Homo sapiens: one gene and its partners. The protein of the gene in region 2 purifies or fractionates together with the protein of the main gene of each other region. This does not show direct contact. Each region holds a gene or a part of one and is shown on either strand. Other genes may lie near its edges.

The links.
Region 1: the proteins of DDI2 (region 2) and TLN2 fractionate together in Homo sapiens (co-fractionation; one large-scale study listed by BioGRID). This does not show direct contact.
Region 3: the proteins of DDI2 (region 2) and ZNF763 purify together in Homo sapiens (co-immunoprecipitation; one large-scale study listed by IntAct). This does not show direct contact.

Annotation. Positions count from the first base shown.
Region 1 is NC_000015.10:62,389,000-62,392,750, reverse strand, and holds the start of TLN2 (talin-2), read right to left. Parts: upstream 2,202-3,751; 5' UTR 2,066-2,201; intron 1-2,065. UniProt on the Homo sapiens protein: As a major component of focal adhesion plaques that links integrin to the actin cytoskeleton, may play an important role in cell adhesion. Recruits PIP5K1C to focal adhesion plaques and strongly activates its kinase activity.
Region 2 is NC_000001.11:15,627,345-15,630,995, forward strand, and holds part of DDI2 (protein DDI1 homolog 2), read left to right. Parts: intron 1-2,980; coding exon 2,981-3,217; intron 3,218-3,651. UniProt on the Homo sapiens protein: Aspartic protease that mediates the cleavage of NFE2L1/NRF1 at 'Leu-104', thereby promoting release of NFE2L1/NRF1 from the endoplasmic reticulum membrane.
Region 3 is NC_000019.10:11,967,982-11,971,632, forward strand, and holds part of ZNF763 (zinc finger protein 763), read left to right. Parts: intron 1-3,651.

The DNA of each region.
Region 1 (3,751 bases), on a different chromosome or scaffold from region 2:
CCCCAGAGGTTTCTGTGGTCCCTTCTAGCCTCTTCAGTGAAGAAGACCGGAAGTGCCGACAAAACCTCAATACTATGACATCATTTCGGTAACACTCCAAGGAGAACACGTTCCTGCAATTGGCTGCCTGTAGGTTGGCAAACACGCCCGTGCCCTGTCCCATCACAAAGCAGAGGTCACAGTCTACTTCAAAAGTAAAGATTCCCCACTCCCGCTTCCCCCTCACTCCAGAGAGGTCGCTGCCTCCAAGCTCTGGAGAAGGGAGGTCAGCGTGCAACCTTACAATGCCACAGCTTAACACACCCAGGTATTATTAATGGAAAAGTAAGTGGTACTTACAGCACCAGGGCAATTTACGTGTATTTTGGGGACCACTTCTCCAAGACATCATCCCTACCCAACCGTCTTTAATTATGTCTTTGACAACGCCAACACTTCAGTTCATTCCTCTCTCATCTTCTGGAAAGAACCAGAAGTTTTCACTATGAGACACAGGAATTCTGGCCTAAGTTGTCCCAGCTCTTCAAGGACAGCAAGAATCCAAGTTTCCCCACGCGTCACCTGAAGCCCCAACTTCTGGAAACGCCCTCCTTTCCTCGCCTCTACGAGCTGCGAGAGCAGAACACGCAGCCGCGGGCGCTACTGCTGTCGCCGCTAAAGCCAAAGAGGCGACTGGAAGCTCAGGCTGTTCGGCGGCCTCGGGGCGACCACAGGCCAGGCCCTGGTCCTGATCCACGAACCAAGGCGCCTCCTCTCCCCCAGGAAGTGAGCTACTGCGCCCCTCGGAGCACCCAGGCGAGCCCGGGCACCGGGAGAACGCTCTACACTCGGCGCCCAGCCCCGGGACGCCGCCCAGCGCACGGCTCCGGCTGAGCACCCGGGCAGCGGTAGCTGCGGGGAAGAGGGGCGTGTTCCCTGAGCCTCGGAGCCCCAAGGCCGGGTCCAGGCGGGACAGAGGAAGGCGGCAAGCCCAGCACGCTGTCCGTGACGGCGGCTCTCGTTCCCAAGCCCCGCCGGCTGGCGTGGCGACGCGCTGTAGTCCGCGCGCCCTTGCGGGGACAGCAGTCGTGCGCGCCTTGTGCGGCCGCCTCCGCGCCTGCCTCGGCGCGCAAACTTTCCCGGCGACAACCGATCAGGCCTCTCCGACTGGGGCGCGGGGCTCTCCCCGGGACCCAGAAACTGCTCGCCCCCTCCCCTCCGCAGTCAAGACCCACTGAAAATATGGCGCCCTCGAAAGTCGTTCCTCGGTCCCCTCAGGGATCCCGAAATACTCGTCTCCAGGTCCCTCCAGCTTCCAATGGGCGCAAAATTTCAGCTCGTGGGACCGAGGAAGGAGAGGGAGCCGCTGAGTCTGTGTGAGGCCAGCCGCACTGGATGCAAAGCCTGGCCCCGCTCTCGGCCCGGCACTGCCCCCGTCGCTCAGCGGCCAGCAGTTCGCCCGTGGCGAGATTGCCAAGTAAAGGGCAGTCGTGGGATCGGCAGGTCTGAGTGTCCGGCACCGGAGAAGGAACTCCGCACTGGCGGGCTGTCTTAGCCCAGAGCCTCGGCGGGAGACTTGTTTGCAAAGTGGCGCTGGAGTCCCGGCGGCCAGTGCTGGAATGAAGCTGCTCCTCCAGCGCCAACTCTTCTGGCGCGGGGGCCCGGCTGGGGTCGAGGGGACACTCTATGCAGGCGGGGCCGCTTTTCAAAGCCCAGTTACCGGAAACCCAGCGAGAGCCCCGGAGGGGACCGGCTGCCCACGGCCAGGAATCCGCTCTCTGGCGCCGACTGCGAGGCTGTTTGCAAACCGCTGCGCCCGGGTCCGGTGCAGTGAAACATACATGTGCAATAGACAGGTGCATTAATTTCATTTTATTTTTATTTTCCTGCAAGAAGCCCTCCTAGACCATCAAATCTGGGAGCTTTACGGGTTTTTCCTGCATTGGCATCACTCACGAGAAGCAAAAGGGAGGAAAAAAAACCCCACATTTTCCTTCTGGAGAGGGGAGGGAAAAGACACGAGAAATTCATGCAACGTGCATGCAGCTGGAGGAAGAGGAAAACCCGAGTGAGCCGTGCGCCTTACCGGGGGATGCATTTACTGTCTCATTGCAGAGCGCCTGCCCGGGAGTGCAGCCCGCGTCCCCCCGCGCGCTGGGCGACCACTCCGCTCCCGCAGCCGCCTCAGCCGCTGCCGCCGCCGCTGGCTCCGGGCGCGGAACAAGAGCCGAGGGCGAGCGCGAGCGCACTGCCCGAGAGCGCTGGGAGGGCAGGAAGCGCGTCATCATTCGGGGACGGCGCGGCGCCGGTCCGGCCGCGGCGCCGCGCGGCACCGGGGTGGGCCGCCACCGAGGCTCAGGCGCCCGTCCTGGGTTTCCTCCCACGCGTGGTGATGCTGAAAGGGTCCGCGAGGGAAGGTGATGCACCGGCCGAGCTGTCACGGGGAAGGGAGGCTCGGGGTGACCCCGGCTTCCCAGAATTGGGGCTCTGCTGTGTAAAGGGGATGACTGCAGGACACAGCGTCTTGTAGGCTGGGGCCCCTAGGTCCGCAGAGTGCCCTCTCGGGACCTCTGGCCCGGTCCTGGGGGAAGCGAGCTGTGGCTAACTGGAGGGCCGTGGTGGGCGGTGGGGTCTTGCTGCGAAGCGGAGGGCCGTGACCCCAGGCGAGCCTGCTCCTTTCAGCACAAGGACCCTGAAACCTTGCTGGTCAGGTGTCACTTAGGTATTTAGAGAACGACTATAGGGATGAGTGGCGGTAGGGGCGTGCTGTGTTGATAAGAAGAAAATAATTCACTCCTGCTTGCCATGCCCTGAATAAAGTCAGTTATATACCTCTTACATTTACAGTCATTATTAGTAAATACTGTAAATACCATGGAACAATGTGAAGGTTATTCAAGGGGGTGAGGAGACAAAACACTATGTACCGTATGGTCCCGTTTTTAAAAACTGTGATTTATGGAGAAAGGCAGAAAAGACTGGATAGATAAACACCAATAAGTCTCTCAGTGATTGGTGGAATTGTGAGTAATTTTACTTTTTTATTTATCTGTAAGGGACACATTAGTAATTTAAAAAAACAAGAATTAGCCATGACCCCTTTACTCCTAGTACTTTGGGAGGCCAAAGCAGGAAGATCTCAAGCCCAAGGAGTTTAAGATCGGCCTGGGCAATATAGCGAGACCTTATCTCTACAAAAAAAATTAAAAATCAGCCGGGTGTGGGGGCGCATGCCTGTAGTCCCAGTTACTGGGGAGAATGGTGGGAGGATCGCTTGAGCCCGGGAGCTCGGGGGCTGCATGAGCGGTGATCCTACCACTGCACTCCAGCCTGGATGACAGAGCGGGACTCTGTCTCAAAAAAGAAAAAAAAAAGGAAAGACGACATTATTTCCATCCCAATACAGAATGGACCAGGAAATAGGTAGCAAATCTATTCAGTTACTCAAATGGAACTGCTGGCAACTTTTTAGTGTTTCTCAGAGAAAGAAACTGCTGTCACCATAAACCGGAGACTGAATTGATTTTGTAAATTGAAATTATTTTGAATAAGTCCGTTGGAACATTGGATAAGGCTGGACATTCTGTGAGAACAATACCCTGTCCTTAACCAGGCTGATGAACCGGACTGTATGTATCATAGCAGCAAAGATAACCTTAGGGTACAACTTTGTAACTTATTGCAGAATATAAACTGTAAAGCTAACAAAGTATACATTATCAATGCACAGTGAGAGAACCAATTACTTGGCAACTTGAGAAAGTCCTAAAAA
Region 2 (3,651 bases):
GTGAGGGCACAGGAATTAAAATTTGATGCTTTTTCCATTATGCTGAACTTGATAAACATTAAGCAGCTTGACCACCAAGTTGTGGTTCTTTCCTACCAGCTGTGTTAATCACATACAAAGAAACGTTTATCTATCTTTGATGCTGCTTTTATAATAGATGTTTATAGTCTGAACTCTGTGCATTGGGATTTAGTAGGTTCTATGTCACTGAAATAATATGCAGAATTGTGTGGATGTGAATGTGTGTGTGCACTGGATAGAGAGAGGGTCATAGCTTTGTTCAGATACTTGAAGTGGCTCATGATCCACAAAATGATTATAAGGTCTTAATGTGAAACAGCTTGGTGAAATGTGTGGTTTTTTTCCATTCGCTGCCATATTCAGATAGATTTTCTTAAATAGTGTTTAGCCTGTAGGTCACCAGTTTTAAAGTTTATGGTGACAGATGCTGGCAGAGTCTGGGTGATGACAGACTGACTGCAGTTTTAACCACAGTGTTTCCATTCAGCCTGAAACTGGAACTTACTGAGACCATCAAGGACCGGCTCCACCAGATCTGGAAGACATTAGTCCCTTGGGGCCACAGTTAAACTTTAGAAAGAAGTTAAAACTTCTTTCTGAAGAAGTTAAACGTATTTAAACAACTATGACAATCAGTAAAAACCACATCTTCCTTTGGTTAATTTGATGAGATTATTAATTCCGGAATTTACTTCTTTTTTTTTTTCCTCTGCATTGTTGTTTATGGACAAGAGAGCCTGTAACAGGTTGGGGCAGGAGTGATCTGGTCTATTAAGTAAACATGTTTTTGAGAATTATTCTGAAGTGAATGGACTCTCAAGATAATGTATAACAGGAGTGGAGATAAAATTTCTTGACCTGCAAAGAGGGCCCACCCATATATGTTTTTCTGGCTGGTATAGATTAACTACCTCACAGAGATCATCCTCTTCACTTCACCATTTCCTTGGTTGGGAGTTGAAGAAAGTGGCTAGTTGAACCCCTGCTAAAGGGTAGAAATGTTACATCATGAGTTTAAGCATTCTCTTTTTCTATCTGAGGTCCAAAAAGGCTTCAGGATAGTCCCAGACTTGAGACAAGTTTGTTTGTTTTTTGATTTTTTAGTTTATTTAAAATCCTTAATAGTGCAAGGATTGTGCTATAATTCTGATCACTGTGGAATTGCTTAGTGTACTGTCATTTATAACATTAAGCACAGTTATCCTTAAGAAAAGTATTCAGTTGTTCAGACAAGTTTGACCATCAACTATATTTTTTGGAGTTGAAGGAATGTCGATTGACTCAGGCCTAGCCCCTCATTCTGGCTCTCCTTGTTTACTTTTCTCTTTTTCATTTTTCTTTTTTAAATAACAGTTTTATTGAGATAGAATTCATGCATTTAAATGATTTTTTTTTACTATATTCATGAGTTGTGTAACCATCACCACAATCCATTTTAGCGTATTTTCATTACCTTAAAAAGAAATCCTATACCCATTTATAGTCATTTCCCATTTCCCCCTAGTCTCCGCAGCCTAGACAACTACAAGTCTACTTTCTGTCTCTATGTATTTACCTATTTGGAACATTTCATATAAATGGGGTCATACAATATGTGAGTCCGTTGTGTAAGGATTAAAATTCCCTTTTATCTTCCTTTCATTTTAGTAAGGTCAGTTCCACCTGGCATATAGAACCTGGGAGTTGTAGCTTCTAAACTGTGGTAGCTTTTGGTGTATTCAGCACTGAGAACCTATGCAAGTCCCTTTTCTTCTTTCTTTTCTATAAAATGATGACACTGTTTAGCTCCCCAAGGGCATGAGAAGAGTTAGCAGAGATGCACAGATTAAAGTATAAATTCAGAGAACTATTAAGAACTTCCCTGAGCCAATACGTTTAGCACTGACTTGCAGAATTTAGCATCTAATATTTATGCTGCTCACTTGACATATATAATATCCTTTGATCCGGCCGGGCACAGTGGCTCACACTTATAATCCCAGCACTTTGGGAGGCTGAGGTGGGTGGATCACCTGAGGTCAGGATTTCGAGACCAGCCTGGCCAACATGGTGAAATCCCATCTCTACTAAAAATACAAAAAATTAGCTGGGCGTAGTGGCACACGCCTGTAATCCCAGCTACTCGGGAGGCTGAGGCAGGAGAATCACTTGAACCCAGGAGGCAGAGGTTGCAGTGAGGCAAGATCGTGCCATTGCACTCCAATCTGGGCAACAAGGCAAGACTCCGTGTCAAAAAAAAAAAAAAAAAATTCTTTAATCCAAGCGTCAAGGCTGTTTGAACCATATGTCAGACCAGAGTAGGATTTTTCTCAAGAACAACATCCAGACTTATGCAATTATATTTATTGAAACTAGCTTTAATTTTTTTTTTTTTTTTTCTTTTGAGATGAAGTTTCGCTCTTGTTGCCTGGGCTGGAGTGCAATGGCGCCATCTCGGCTCACTGCAACCTCCACCTCCCGGGTTCAGGTGATTCTTCTGCCTCAGCCTCCTGCGTAGCTGGGATTACAGGTGACTGCGACCACGCCCAGCTAATTTTTGTATATTTAGTAGAGACAGAGTTTCACTATGTTGACCAGGCTGGTCTTGAACTTCTGACCTCAGGTGATCCAGCCACCTTGACCTCCCAAAGTGCTGGGATTACAGGTGTGAGCCACCACGCCTGGCCACTTTAATGATTTAAAAACATAAATTAAAAACCTGATGTCTATTGTGAGATATTTTATAAGCTAAAAATTTGGAGTTACTACCATCACCTTCCCCCTATTTTTCTTCTTCTATCGATTCACTCTCAGCCGGCAGTCTTTATATTCAGAGTCATCATGAGAAAGAACAAGGTTAAAGTCTACAGTTACCTTTGCTGCTGTCATATACCATGTATGAGCAAGTGTTCTGCTGTTTCCTTCAAGTGCTTGTTTTTGTAGAGTAATTTGAGTAAACTGAATTGATTTTCCCCAACAGACTTACCCCGAATAGATTTCAGTAGTATAGCTGTGCCTGGCACATCAAGTCCCCGGCAGCGCCAGCCACCAGGAACACAGCAGTCCCACTCATCTCCTGGAGAAATAACTTCATCTCCTCAGGGCTTGGACAATCCAGCCTTGCTCCGAGATATGTTGCTGGCCAACCCGCATGAGCTGTCCTTGCTGAAGGAACGCAATCCACCCCTGGCAGAAGCTCTGCTCAGTGGAGACCTTGGTAAGCTTATAAATTTGGAAGGCTATTAGGCTGGCCTGAGGTGAAGAAGCTGTGTCATAGCAAATGTGAAGAGACTCAAGCGACACTGTGTCACATGATTTATTGAACATACCAGTTTTTTCTCTGTGAGAGGTAAATTAGTGCTAAAGTCAAAGGCTGAGTTACTTGGAAACAGCAATAGAGTTTTAGCAGTGAAATCCATCTAGGCCACCCCCCTTGGTTTACTTTTTGTTTTCCTCATTGTTTTTGGCAGCAGATAACCTAGGTACTGATTTTTGTTTGTTTCTTTGTTTTTTCTTTGAGACGGAGTCTTGCTCTTTCGCCCAGGCTGGAGTGTAGTGGTGCAATCTTGGCTCACTGCCAGCTCCGCCTCCCGGGTTCATGCCATTCTCCTGCCTCAGCCTCCCAAGTAGCTGGGACTACAGGCGCATGCT
Region 3 (3,651 bases), on a different chromosome or scaffold from region 2:
TTATGAGTATTGGGACATCCGGATGTTCTGTCGTTGTGGGAGTGTAAGGATACTTGCAGGCATCTTCAGGCTGTTTTCTTAATGTCAAACATGTTATGACCATGGGTTGTGACTGGCAAGGAGTGTTTCTTGTTAGTCTCAAGATGGAGCTGATTGGTCTTTCTCTGGCTCCCCTAGGCACTTGCTTCCCTAACACTTATATAGGCAAAAGGCAAATAAATGTAACAGGATTACATTTTCCATAGAAGGCTGATGTATGAGGTACAATAATTTAATTTTTTTTTTTCTTTGAGACAATGTCTAGCTCTGTGGCCCAGGCTGGAGCAGTGGTGCGATCATGGCTTACTGCAGCCTTGACCTCCCCAGCTCAAGCACCTCAGCCTTCCCAGTAGCTGAGAGTACAGTTGCCCACCAGCACACCTGGCTAATTTTTTGTATTTTACAGAGGTGGGGTCTCGATATGTTGCTCAGGCTGGTCTCTTGCTCCTGGCCTCAAACAGTCCTCCTTCCTTGGCCTCCAAAAGTGCTGGGATTATAGACATGAGCAAATGCATGTGGATAACAACTTAATTTGTAGTGGTTTGCTTTTTTCCCCCAGAGCTTGTTTTCTTTTCTTTCTAGCTGGTTTATATTTCCTTTTCAATTTAAAAAAGTGAATTTAATATTCTAGCTGAAGACAACATGATAGCCATGGAGTCTTTGTGTGAGAAAGTTAAGAGGGAAATTAGTGTACTATAGAGATCAGTAGTAGAGAGGGGCCTGGCGGGATGGCTCACACCTGTAACCCCAGCACGTTGGGAGGCCGAGGCAGGTGGATGGCTTGATCTCAGGAGTTGAAGACCAGCCTGGCAACATAGTGAGACCCCATCTCAATTGTGAAAAATCATATTAAATTTAAAAAGACAGTGACAAGGGAAAGGGTCTTTCCTGTTTCCCTTCAGTCATTTACAACATTTTACAAAACACTATAGGTAAGAAAGAAGGCAAATCTGTAATCAGGGAAAGGAGGGTTCCAGCTAGCTAGGTGAAAGTTGTGTGTCATGTGACTCAACCCCATGATCACATTGCTTCAAGATGATGTAGAGATTCATCAGCTTAAATTTTTGAATTACTTGGTTGTTTTTGCTTGTTTGTTTGTTTTGAGACAGGGTCTCACTCTGTCGGCTAGGCTGGAGTGCAGCGGCGTGATCTCAGCTCACTGCAGCCTCTGCCTTCTGGGTTCAAGTAATTCTCTGGCCTCAGCCTTTCCAGTAGCTGGGATTACAGGTGCGTGCCACCACACTCGGCTAATTTTTCTATTTTTAGTAAAGACAGCGTTTTATCACGTTCGCCAGGCTGGTCTTGAACTTCTGTCCTCAAGTGGTCCATCCACCTTGGCCTCCCAAAGTGGTGGGATTACAGGTGGGAGTCACTGCACCGGGCCTGACTTACTTGTTCACACAGCCTATATAGGTAGAAAATTTCTAGTTATGTAATCAGCGGTTAATTGGTGGATTGTGCCTGATTAAGCATAAATTTCATTTCCCTATACATTAGTAATTTTCACGAGTTGTATTTAAATATGATTTCAGGATCCTTAGGTAGGACCTTAGGACACCTCACACAGTTTGGCCTCATTGCTTCTTATTTAAATTTTTTCACATTCTCCAGGGCAACTGGTTTCCCCTTACATTTTCCAAATATATGGGATGCAGCGTCTCAAATCCTCCACCCTCATACCACAGCCTAACTCTTCAAGGGCTTGCAGTGAAATCTGTTTCTGAACATTTCACATGAGAGGAAAGCAGAGAATAACCACTAGACATTTGCCTGAAAAATCCTTTCTGCCTCTCCTCCTTTTATCTTTCCTAGACACAGACACCTTATCAGGATGTCTTTGGGATGAGGTTCCTTTCTGGAAACTTTACAGGGTGATGTGTCTTCAGTACACCCTCCTATCTTTTCCTGGTTTTGGGTTTTAGAATTGCCTGGGGCTGGCTCAAGATCCCCACAACTGCCATGTCTCCTGGAGGGTCTCATGGGTATTAGTGCCTTAGGGGAGTGGGACCTCCCGAGGGAGCAGCTGAATGCCTTATGGTGGAGGAGATGCCTGGTATACTCTTCATCTACATAACCAATTCTTGGGGTGCTCAGCTTCTGTCTCCCAACTCCACTTTCCATTAATTGGAGACACATGGCTGTTCTGCCAATCGGATGTTGCTAATGAGGAAAAACAGAGATGATTCCTGTCCTCTGGATTGTCTCAACTGTGAAGAGAGAAATATCCCAAAAGACAAGGAAAGGCCACTCCAACAAGGATGTATTTAGCTGTCCCACAGGGAGGTGGTCACCAGAATGCAGCTGAGTAAGTCCCATATGTGAGTTAACCACATGGAGGAACTGGGAGGAGGTGGAGAACCAGAAACTGTTCAGAGTTTGAGTAAAGTTTTCTTCTGTTATAACAACGTTAAATCCATAAAGAAAATGCATGCTAAGGTAACATATAAATAAAAGAATTCACTGTAACAGGTAACTCTAGAATTAATTAAATTATTGTATATGGAGATGATGAGTAGTAGATTGATTATTCTCCTGTAGATAACCATTTGTCCCTGCTTTTTCTGTTAAGTGTTCACCACTTGTATCATTGGCTGGCAATACCTGGTTTGTCATAGTTTCATATTACCTTAAATAGATGTCCAGAGCAGGTGCAGTGGCTCACACACTTTGGGAGGCTGAGGCTGGCAGATCACCTAAGGTCAGGAGTTTGAGACCAGCCTGACCAATATAGTGAAACCCCATCTGTACTGAAAATACAGCATTAGCTGAGCATGGCAGCGCATGGCTATAATCCTAGCTACCTGGGAGGCTGAGGCAGGAGAATCGCTTGAACCTGGGAGGTGGAGGTTGCAGTGAGCCGAGATCCCGCCTTTGCCCTCCAGCCTGGGCAAGGAGAGTGAAACCTCATTTCAAAAAATAAAAAAAAAACTAAAAAACTAGATGCCCTGGTCTCACAATTTGCTGTTTTCCATTGGTCTGTCCTTCCATCTCTCTGTTAATACCATTTTCTCTTAATTAGTGTAGAGTTCAAAGCTGCAGTGTATAGTAGGGATATTGCTTCTCTATCTTAGTCATCTTGGGCTGCTACATCAAATTACCATAGACTGGGTAACTTAAAGAATAAACATTTGTTTCTGACAGTTCTTGAGGTTGTGAAGTCCATGTTCAGGGAGTTGGCAGATCTAGTGTCTGGTAATGGCCCGCTTCCTGGTTTGCAGATGGTCATCTTGTGGTTTCTTCACATGACAGAAAAGAGAGGAAGCTGGCTGTCCTGTGTCTTCCTATAAGAGCACTAATCTCATTCGGAAAGCATCTACCTTTATGCTCTCATCTAATCCTAATTAATTCCCAGAGATGTCAACTTCTAATACTATAGTGGGGGGTAGGTTATTAATGTGTGATTTTTTTAGAGTGATGCAAATATTCATGCCGTAACACCCTCCAACCATATTCTATAGAGCATCTTGGCTGTTCTTAGTCATTGTCTTCTATTTCAGTTTTTAGAAGTACTTTTTTCTTAATTTTAGTGAAAAAAACAAACTGCCTTATAAATTTCATGGAATAAAATATAACTGTAGTCGTATTTCAAAGAGGTTACATCATAGTGTTATT